Linked DNA regions of Homo sapiens: region 1 is linked to region 2. A link means that fine-mapping ties the variant in region 2 to the expression of a gene that starts in the linked region. Tissue or cell type: whole blood. Region 2 holds a variant in brackets; the other region holds the start of a gene. All regions are shown on one strand. Distances are between the middles of the regions. Region 1 holds the start of TMEM144 (transmembrane protein 144). Region 2 overlaps LOC105377509 (a long non-coding RNA gene).

What was found. PIP is the estimated chance that this variant, and not a neighbour inherited with it, causes the effect.
Region 1: TMEM144 starts here. The variant in region 2 is the best candidate, but not a certain one, in a credible set for the expression of TMEM144 in whole blood (INTERVAL, PIP 0.83).

The regions. Positions count from the first base shown.
Region 1 is chr4:158,207,998-158,213,395 of GRCh38, reverse strand. TMEM144 (transmembrane protein 144) reads right to left here and starts at 2,910. Exons shown (of 13, transcript NM_018342.5): 1 at 2,810-2,910; 2 at 1,822-1,943; 3 at 620-788. The coding sequence starts at 728. RefSeq lists enhancers at 2,978-3,067, 2,968-3,522.
Region 2 is chr4:157,952,735-157,958,132 of GRCh38, reverse strand. All of the region lies in intron 2 of LOC105377509 (a long non-coding RNA gene), which reads left to right. Among named protein-coding and RNA genes, the nearest start is that of GASK1B-AS1, 220 kb to the left of the region's middle. The variant C/TC (reference allele first, on the strand shown) is at 2,986.

The sequences.
Region 1 (5,398 bases), 260 kb before region 2:
AGTTTGCTCCTGGAAGTGAGCATCCAAAGGGTTGCAGCTTACGAGTTACTGTGAAGGTATTGGGTGAGGAGTTGGGACAGGAGATGTGGTTGGGTGGAATACATCATAACCACATGTGATGAACTAAGGGAGCTGGTCGATATTTGAAGATTGTACGTGTGTCTGCGTGCATTATGTGTATTATCACACATCTTTATTCATCTAGGTGCAGTCTTCTGTGCCTATCTAGAGGTTTCTCAGGGACAAAATTGCACATAAGCAAGCCAAAAATCTGTTATGCTTACATTGTTCTCTAATATATCAATCATGTTGAAGATTCATGTTTTCAAAACAGGTGTTATAGTAGAACTGACTATAAATTTCTTCCATTCATATAATGGCCCAAGAGATTTCCTGACTGTACCCTCCCTAACTTTACCATGAAACAACCTTAATGGTTCTCCTATTCTGACTTTCAGACAAACTGGTATGAGCACTGTCAAATGACTAATTTTAAGCTCTATTCACTAGGTATCAAGATCAACATGATTTATTTTTGTAGCTATACTTTTAAAAGACCAAAAAAGGAACTTCATTTTTAAAAATAATATAACGTTAACAATCAAGGAAAAATAATTACCATCACCAGTATCAAATTTTTTAAGTGGCACAAAATTTGAGCCAAACAAAAGGATAGCTACAAAACAGGAGATGTAACCAAAGGTTAGGTCTGCTCCATTGTTGCTCATGATTCCAGTCTTAATGAGTTAGCTGGTTCACTTTAGACTTGATGTACTTTTCAGGAGCTTCTGAAATAAAAGAAAAAATGAAACAATTGAGACGTGAATCTGTGACCAAATTGTGATTAACATATTATATTTATTGAATTTTTCAAAAGCACGCTAAGACTCCTTTTTGCAGATAGGATATTACACAACTATATATAATGTTTGTACTTCATGTTAATTTATTCTATCACCAAATATTTTTGATCACTAGCCTACAATTTAAAAAGAACAAGCCCTGAAGACAAATTTTTAGTACATTACAAAAAAAATTCTCCTGTGTAGGTTCCATCACTGCAGAAAGTTTTAGCGGATAACGCTGCTAAGCTTATTTAACAGCTTTAGCTTCTCTATGAAGAAAGGACTAAAACCACAAATAACCAAGAATTAGACATTTTTTCATAAAGTTACCATTTGGAAAAGGCCACTGAATACAATTCAGATTTTTAGTTTCCCGAGATACATGAGAAAAAAGCACCACCAAAGTAATTTTATCACAGGAGGTACAGCGTCTTTCCACAATGCCATCTTGGATTCATATTTTGCACACTGGCCCTTTGGAATAAGCCCTCTGGAATAGAAGCAGAATAATCCAGTGGTTTCTTTTTTCCTGCAAATTTAATGTTATAGTAATAACTTCTTGTATATATGTATTGAATAAAGTACACCTGAAATCACCTTTCCTTGTTATTTTATTTCACAATGACAAATATTTAAAGGTCCATGTATTGTTCCTTATGTGTTCTTGCAGAGAATATTAAATATACAACAACCTACAAAATATGTTATTTACCATTATTAAAGATAGTTTAACTGAAAACAAGGATCACTTCAAAACTGGTCAATAAACTTTAGTAAAGAAAATGTGTATTTGAAATTGTGTGGACTTTCTTAAAACAAAAACACATTGCTATTAAGAAAACATCCTCTATAGGGATGTGGTTGAGGAAGACACACTGAGGCACATTTCAACATTGACACATTAACACTATTCAATAAAAATAATTATTATTCTACTGTTAGGCTCAAAGAGAGGTTCAGCCCTGCAGTGACTTACATGGGTTATGGCTCAAGGGTCAGCTGAGGCAGGTGCTTGCTGCTAAGATAACAGAGGTGCCAAGATAACAGAGGTGCAACAGGTCAGAGATGCAGGAAGTGTCTTGAAAAGCTAACCTATGACTAAAAAGACACATGACTGGGTGATAGCTAACACATCATTTTCTCCCCATTTTAATTCACAACAAGCAAAGCAAAACAAAACCTTTATGTGTACATTGATAGAAGAGAATGTCTAACCTTCAAGAGTGGCAAATTATTTTATTGAGAAGGCTCCACAAAGGCCCTACACCTCTGAAACGGAGAGACTAATTTGACGTGCTAATTAGAGTGCATGAGGTGCATTTCGACTACTGAATAAACATCAATCAGTTATTACCTATAGATAAATGAAGTTTATTGCATGCAGCTCTTGTACATTTCAGAGCATGTGATCTTATTTCATTGTGAATTGGCAATAACTTACTGTCTTTAAAAAGGCTCTACCGCTCTCTAAAATAATGAAATTTTTGTGGAAAAGAAAAGCAGTATCACTCCATCCAGCACATTTTTCCCAATTCTTCCTGCACAAAACCTAAAAAGTCTCAAACATTATTTTAATGTTTTCTTTTCAGCGTTCGCTGATATTTTGTCAAACTATATTAATTCATTTTTATTTTATTACTTTTGTTTCATTTATTAGTAAATACTTCTCCTTTACATTTTTCCTAGTAATTTAAACTTCTACGCAGACTTTGAAAAAATTCGTATTTGGTATGTTCTGATCAATACTGCTTGCTCCACTCCAACTAAAATTTCATTTTTAGTTTCATGTTGATTTTCCCAAATCTCCAGGCAAGTACCGCCTGTCTTTGGGCTAAAATTAACAGTGCTTGAATGTATTTATTCCGAGCCTTGATTTTTCTTTTTAACCATGAGCACGTTTCTGAAAAATCATGAGACGCTCCCCTGCAAAGCGACTTGGCTTTCCTTTGAGTGGCTGTACTCACTGCGTTCCGGGCTGGCGGCTGAAGCTCCTTCCTACTCAGCGCCGGCGCGATCCGCCCACTACGTGCCAGTGTGGAGCCGGAGCCTGACTCATTCCCTCTACGTGCTGGGGGCGGCCTGGCCAGCCTTTACTTTCTGCGGGGACAATTTCCCATACACCGGCCGGGAGGAGAGGGGAGGGCTCTAGCACCCGTGACCCAGACTCCCGTTCCCAGGGTGCTCGCGAAGAGCGCCAATCCAGCCTTGACTTCCTGCTGGGACGTTTACCTCCACTTAAGGAGGGTGGAGAAAGGAGGGCTTTAGCACCGGTGACCTAGAGGCCTTCATAGGACAGCAGGTTGGGGAACGCCTTCCTTCAGTTGCTGTGCTGGACTGAATTGTCAGGTGGCTCAAAAGGAGTCGTCAAGCCCTGGGTCGGTCAACCAGGAAACTAGAAGAGTTTTGTGTATTTCAAGAGGTGATTATTCAGGAAACTCTCAGCATGTCACCCTCTCTAAGTGTCACAGAGGGAGGTATTATTTGTGCAGTTTATGGATAAAACAAAAGTCTGAGGAATTTCACACCATTGTAAAAGATTATCTCAAGTGAATTTTTCCACTTGGTATTAAGAAATTCATCTGCACCACTGACGTCATTAACATTTCTTGTGACATTACAAGATTTCACTTGTAATCACTAATTCTTTGTAGATGCACCTAAGCCATTTATCTGTACAGGCCATTTATCTGTATTTTTTTTTTTTAAGACGGAGTCTCGCTCTCGTCCAAGCTGGAGTGCAGTGGTGCAATCTCGGCTCCCTGCAACCTCCGCCTCCTGGGTTCAAGCGATTCTCCTGCCTCAGCCTCCTGAGTAGCTGGGACTACAGGCACCCACCACCACACCTGGCTAATTTTTTTGTATTTTTAGTAGAGACGGGGTTTCACCGTGTTAGCCAGGATGGTCTCGATCTCCTGACCTCAGGTGATCCGCCCGCCTCGCCCTCCCAAAGTGAGGGAGTCCTCTCAAAAAAAAAACAAAACAAAAAAAACATCTCTTCATGTGGGTTCGCATACACCAAAGGATGCAAACTTTAAGTTGGAAAGGGGAAGTGTAGGTTCTGTGCTAGTCTGAGTTCAAAGAAGCCTTCTCTGAGGAAGTGCTATTTAACCCGAGACCATCCAGTGGTTGGTAATGGGTGTAGCATTCACAGGAAGGAGAAAACACAAGGACTGTTAAAATATGACATTTCCTAGAAGGAAGTTCTGCCTTAAACATTAATCACATCCATAGACTATCATGTCAGATGAGCAGATGGGAAGGCAAAATAACATTTCATTTAAAGAATTAAAGCAGCAAAGCTTTTTCACTTAAGGAAGAGGATTAATTTAGCAGTTCAGAAAGATTTTGAAGAAATCAGTTCCCCTTTCCACACATGCACACCTAAGACACACACACATACACAAACTTGCTTCCAAAAATATAGGGCCTAAATCCAACCTAGAATTGTTTCACTTCATGGTCACAAGATCATGTGGTTTATTCTTGCTTCACTCACATGGAGAAACTGAAGCTTGTGTCAGCATTTGCTGAGAATTTCTAAAGTCTAAAAGTGAGTTGGGGGCTGAATTAGGCCTGAGAAGATTCATTAGGGATATGCTAGGCCATTGCCTTTTACATTATGCCACAGAGCAAATCCAAACATGCATGACTCTATTCTTAAACTAAAATTTTTCTTTCAAATTGTTTCGTATACATGAATGCCTAAACAGAATGGTCTGTATTGGGAGAGTCCTGGCAGACACTAGAAGATCCAGGTTCTGACTTTAGCTTCGTCTGTTAGCAATATTTCTCATGGAAACTCATTTAATCTCTTTAAACCTTAGTTTTCTTATATGTAAAATGATAATAATAAGACCTGTGCACCTCCCCCTTTTATGTGGTCAAAAGAGATATATATATATATATATATATATATATATATATATATATATATATATATATAACATTATTACTAGGACTTCTGGTTTCTGCTCTGACATTTGAAAGGTGTGAAAGTCTCCACTTCCATCATCACAACAAGAAAAAAATGAGCAAATCAAAAATCAACTACTCTTTTTAGATCTGCAGAGAATTGATGTCATAGGACATGCCACCTCTTTGCAAACTGAAGAAATAGGTGAATACGGAGAATTACAGCTTATCAGGACAGCAAAAGCCACTGGAGCCAGTAAAGGATAGGGGGGCATTTATACAGTATTTGGCCTATTGCTGAAGGCTGAGTGTGGACTAACTTGAGAGTTGAAAACTCAGAGACAGTGGGAGTCATTCATATGGGAGCATCCACACATTAATGAGTTTTACTTTCAGAAGACAGGACAAAAGTTTCCTCTTTTTTCTGGCATGTGGGAGGAAAACAATAACTATTTGAAATATACTCAGAAACAAAAGCCTGTCCTCAAGGTAAACTTTACCCCAGAGCTTTATCTGAATTAGAGAAAAGGCAACTAGACAGTTTGAACACCTTCTACACTTTCTTTCTCACATAAGGAGAAAAACAAAAGAAGAAACCCTTATGAAGTTCACAGCTCAGGGATTCTGGACAACTAGAAAAC
Region 2 (5,398 bases):
GATCCATTTTTAGCTCATGAGCCATGCAGAAAGAGAAAGTGGGAGGATTTGGCCCATGTACCCTGTTTGCTGACTCCTAAAGTAATTTATATGCCAACTTTTATCATTTATTCTGACAAGGGTATGCTCTTTAAAATCTGCTGTGATTTTAGTTTTAACATTTTCCGAAGTTACATGATTGATTTCATATCATACTCAAAAGCAGGCCTAAATCATATACTACCAAAACCATATCATGTGAAAGTTTTTAAAAGTATCTCACCAGATTTCTCAATATAAAGGGATTTTTCGTATTACCTTTTTGTCCTTTTCCAAAGCATCATTTTTGGAATTAGGTGGGGCCCTGACTTACTGCTTTCTCTGTAGTGTGTAGAATTTTACTTTTAAAGAGCAGTGATAAGACACACAAGTCAGTGAACTGGACATTAAAAGGTCTGTATCATTCTAAAATTTAAAGAAAAGGAAGTTGGTTTGTCCTGGTATCAAAACTAACATAAATTTCCATAGTGGCTGTACTAGTTTGCATTCCCACCAGCAGTGTAGAAGTGTTGCCTTTCCACTGCTTCCATGACAACATCTATTATTTTTTGATTTTTTGATTATGGCCATTCTTGCAGGAGTAAGGTGGTATTGCATTGTGGTTTTAATTTGCATTTCTCGATCATTAGTGATGTCGAGCATTTTTTTCATATGTTTGTTGGCCATTTGTATATCTTCTTTTGAGAATTGTCTGTTCATGTCTTCTGCCCACTTTTCGATGGAATTATTTGTTTTATTCTTGCTAATTTGTTTGAGTTCATTGTAGATTCTGGATATTAGTCCTTTGTCAGATGTATAGATTTTCTTTGTCCTTTGTCAGATGTATAGAAGATTTTCTCCCAGCTGTGGGTTGTCTGTTGTTGACTGTTCTTTTGCCATGCAAAAGCTCTTTAAGTCCCAGCTATTTATCTTTGTTTTTATTGCATTTGCTTTTGGGTTCTTGGTCATAAAATCCTTGCTGAAGCCAATGTTTAGAAGGGTTTTTCTGATGTTATCTTCTAGAATTTTTAGAGTTTCAGGTCTTAGATTTAAGTCCTGTATCCATCTTGAGTTGATTTTTGCAAGAGGTAAGAGATGAGGATACAGTTTCATTCTTCTACATGTGGCTTGCCAATTATCCCAGCACCATCTGTTGAATAGGGTGTCCTTTCCCCATGTATGTTTTTGTTTTCTATGTTGAAGATCAGTTGGCTGTAAGTATTTAGGGTATTTAGGTTTATTTCTGTGTTCTCTATTGTGTTCCATTGGTCTATGTGCCCATTTTTATACCAGTACCATGCTGTTTTGGTGACTGTGGCCTTATAGTATAGTTTGAAATCAGGTAATGTGATGCCTCCACATTTGTTCTTTTTGCTTAGTCTTGCTTTGGCTACGCAGTCTCTTTTTTGGTTTCATATGAATTTTAGGATTTTTTTTTCTAGTTCTGTGAAGAATGATCATGGTATTTTGATGGGAATTGCATTGAATTTGTAGATTGCTTTTGGCAATATGGTCATTTTCACAATATTGATTCTACCCATCCAGAAGCATGGGATATGTTTCTATTTGTTTGTGTCGTCTATGATTTCTTTCAGCAGTGTTTTGTAGTTTTACTTGTAGAGATCTTTCTCCTCCTTGGTTAGGTATATTCCTAAATATTTTATTTTATTTTATTTGCAGCTATTGTAAAAGGAGTTGAGTTCTTGATTTGATTCTCAGCTTGGTCACTGTTGGTGTATAGGAGAGCTACTGATTTGTGTACATTCATTTTGCATACCGAAACTTTGCTGAAATATTTTATCAGTTCTAGGAGCTTTTTGGAGGAGTCTTTAAGGTTTTCTATGCATGGAATCATATCATCACAACCAAAATGGAAAACAGTGTGGAGATTCCTTAAAGCACTAAAAGTAGGACTACCATTTGATTCAGCAATCCCACTACTGAGTACCTATCCAGAGGAAAAGAAGTCATTACACAAAAAAGAAACACGCTCACGCATGTTTGTAGCAGGTTAATTCGCAATTGCAAAAATATGAAACCAACCAAAATGCCCATTAACCAAAGAGGGGATAAAGAAACTGTGATATATATATACATACATACATACATATATATATATATATATATATATATATATACACATACATATATATATATATATACACATACATATATATATACATACATATATATATACATACACACATATATACATATACATATACATATATATACATACACACATATATATACATATACATATATATACACACACATATATACACACACATATATATATATACATATATATATACACACACACATGTATATAGATGAAATGCTACTCAGCCATAAAACGGAATAAATTAATGGCATTTGCAGCAACCTGGATGGGATTCGAGACTATTATTCTAAGCGAAGTAACTCAGGAATGGAAAACAAAACATCATATGTTCTCACTCATAAGTGAGAGATAAACTACGAGGATGCAAAGGCAGAAGAATGACACAATGGACTTTGGGGACTCATAAGGAAAGGGTGGGAATGGAGTGAGGGATAAAAGACTACAAAATGGGTTCAGTGTATACTGCTCAGGAGATGGGTGCAGCAAATCTCACAAATCACCGCTAAAGAACTTACTTATGTAACCAGATAGCACCTGTTCCCCAAAAGCCTATGGAAATAAAAAAAAATAACCTAACATAAATTATAATAAAAGTATTTGGAAATTATTTTTCTGTATGTTATAACTTTTTCTCATAAGAGATGATCCCAATAATTTCTAGTGATGACAATTATTTCTCAACATGTGGTTAAAAGCAAAGAGAAAATAAATCCATCAAGTAAAAATGAAAATTAAGACTTTCGAGTGTTCACTGCTCAAAATAGTTTACCAGTCATGTTGAGAAATTTAATCTTCCAAGTAGAAGTTTCTGTGGGTAGAATACTAACCTAGCTTTTTTTTTT[C/TC]TTTTTCCACTCATACTAGTTAGTGTGGAAGGAGAATCCTCCAAGCAAGATGAATATAATTCATATCAAATCTAATCTTGGAAAGTTACAAACATTGGACCTCTAATAGTTTCTACATATTTTTTAGCTGCAGAAAAAAACCTATTTAGGCATTTGTTAATGCACAAGGTCATAAGTTGTAAACAATTTACTCTACACACTACTTTATATATTTTGATATAACTCTAGAAATTAGAATCTAATCATTCTTAGTGCTAAATGACTCAAACAAATAAAATATTTGTATGAATGGCTGGAAGTAGAAAGTAATATTCTTGTTAATTAAGTGAACCAGTCATCGATCCAGGTTATCCCATGTTATTGACTGCTCTTTAGTCACAGACACATGCTTGCAGAGAAGACAGCCCATGTTTATCAAACATGAATAAAACTACATTGGTTCAGCTTGGTTATTTGTTATGGACTAAACTGTGTTGTCCTTCACCCTCAAAATTTACACGTTGAAGCAGAACTCCCTACGTGACAATATTTGGAGATGGGGACTTTAGAAGATAATTAGACTTAGATGAGGTCGTGAGCATGGTACCCTATGACAGGATTACTGCCATCATAAGAAAAAATGCCAGGGCACTTGCTCTCTTTCTCTCTCTGCCACGTGAAGAAACAGTAAGAAGGCAGCTGACTACAAGCCGGGAAGAAAGCCCTCACCAGAACCCAACCATGCTGGCATGCTGATCTTGGACTTTCTAGTCTACAGAATTGTTAGAAATAAATTTCCATTGTTTAAGCCTCCCAGTCTGTAGTATTTTATTATGGAAACCTGAGCAGACTAATACATCACCTCTTTCAAATTTTACAGTGAGAAGCAATTTTAATCATAAATTTCAACACGATTCAAGAAATGAAATTGCAGGACTCTGGGAGTTTTTATTTGCTCACATTTCCATATCTGTCTGTAGGTTGGTCTAACAGGAATGACTCAGTCAAAACAAGTCCTTCTGCCTAGTTCAGTTCATTCATCTGGATACAGGGTATATGTGATGGAACTAAACACTAATATTTCAAAACTTCTTTCACTGCAATTTTATGTACATATAAATAAAATGATTTGTTTTTGTTTTCAAATGATACTGATACCTGCCTTAATTGTCTACTTTACTTTCAATATGATCTACACAGCAAGAAAGTGAAATAAATAATGTTTATATCACTAAAAATGAAATGTATTTCTATACATTATAGGAAATGATTATGCTTTTTGGAGGGAACTTAGATAAAACTTAAAAGTTACCACTTTTGTCCAAAAAATAAGCTGGCAATTTAGCTAAGTACCTAGTTTTACAAAAATATATAGTTTCTGTTCCTATTAAAATGTTATTTTAAATGCAAGAGATCAGTTAGGTTCATCAGAAACTTATTAGGTATCTACTACTTGTAGTACAGTGGATAAATATAATTATTACCTGTTTTATGCTGCTTGAATTCCCTATATGACTGGATCTTTTTTGGAAATATTGATAGGTTATACATAGGGTTTTCATTGGTGTTTTAGTGTAAGTTTGAAAGAAAACAGAAATGATCAAAACTGGTATTGTTTTTCTGAAAGTGAAAATATTGTGAAGTTATTTTTGTGGATTATTTTAGATAATGTAAACAAAGATAATTAATAGGTTGTTTCAAATATTGTTACTAATATTTAATGGTATGAAAAAATGGTCCTATGTTGTTAAATAAAAAATGGTGAAAAAGAACAGGTAGCTCTCAAAAACATTATTTAAGTTTTCTAGGCAAATATATATTACTATTCTATTAAGTAATCACACCAAGAAATGATATTAAAATGGATAATCTAGGAAATCCTCCAGTCTTGGACAAAAGTTGTGTGAGGGTTACATTTTTCCCATGGAAATTATATTATTCATGGTGTTCGGTTTTTGCAACTCCCCCCAAATCCTATATAATTTATCATTTCTATATTTTTTATACTCCAGACCAGTACTATCCAAAATAACTTTCTGTAATGATGGAAAGGTCTTCATATCTACATTGTCCATTGTGGTAATCACTAGACACATGTGGCCACTGAGCACTTAAAATGTGGCTGCTATGATTGAAGAATTGAATATCTGATTTACTTAATTAGCTAAAATTTAAATATAAAAATTGTAGTAGCATGAAATATTTTTCCATTTAACTAATTTTATTGTTTGAGTGGGACTATATTTGACTTTTACCTTTGCATTATTCTCCTGGAGTGTGCGTGCGTTGGATCTACGTGTTGTTCCTATGATTGCAGGCAAACACATCTCCAATCTAGTTATATTCAATGGATTGAATAATCTGAATGATTATTTTCAATGATTGCTGTAACATTGCAACTTTTTTTTGAATATTTTCTGCAGACAGCATGAGT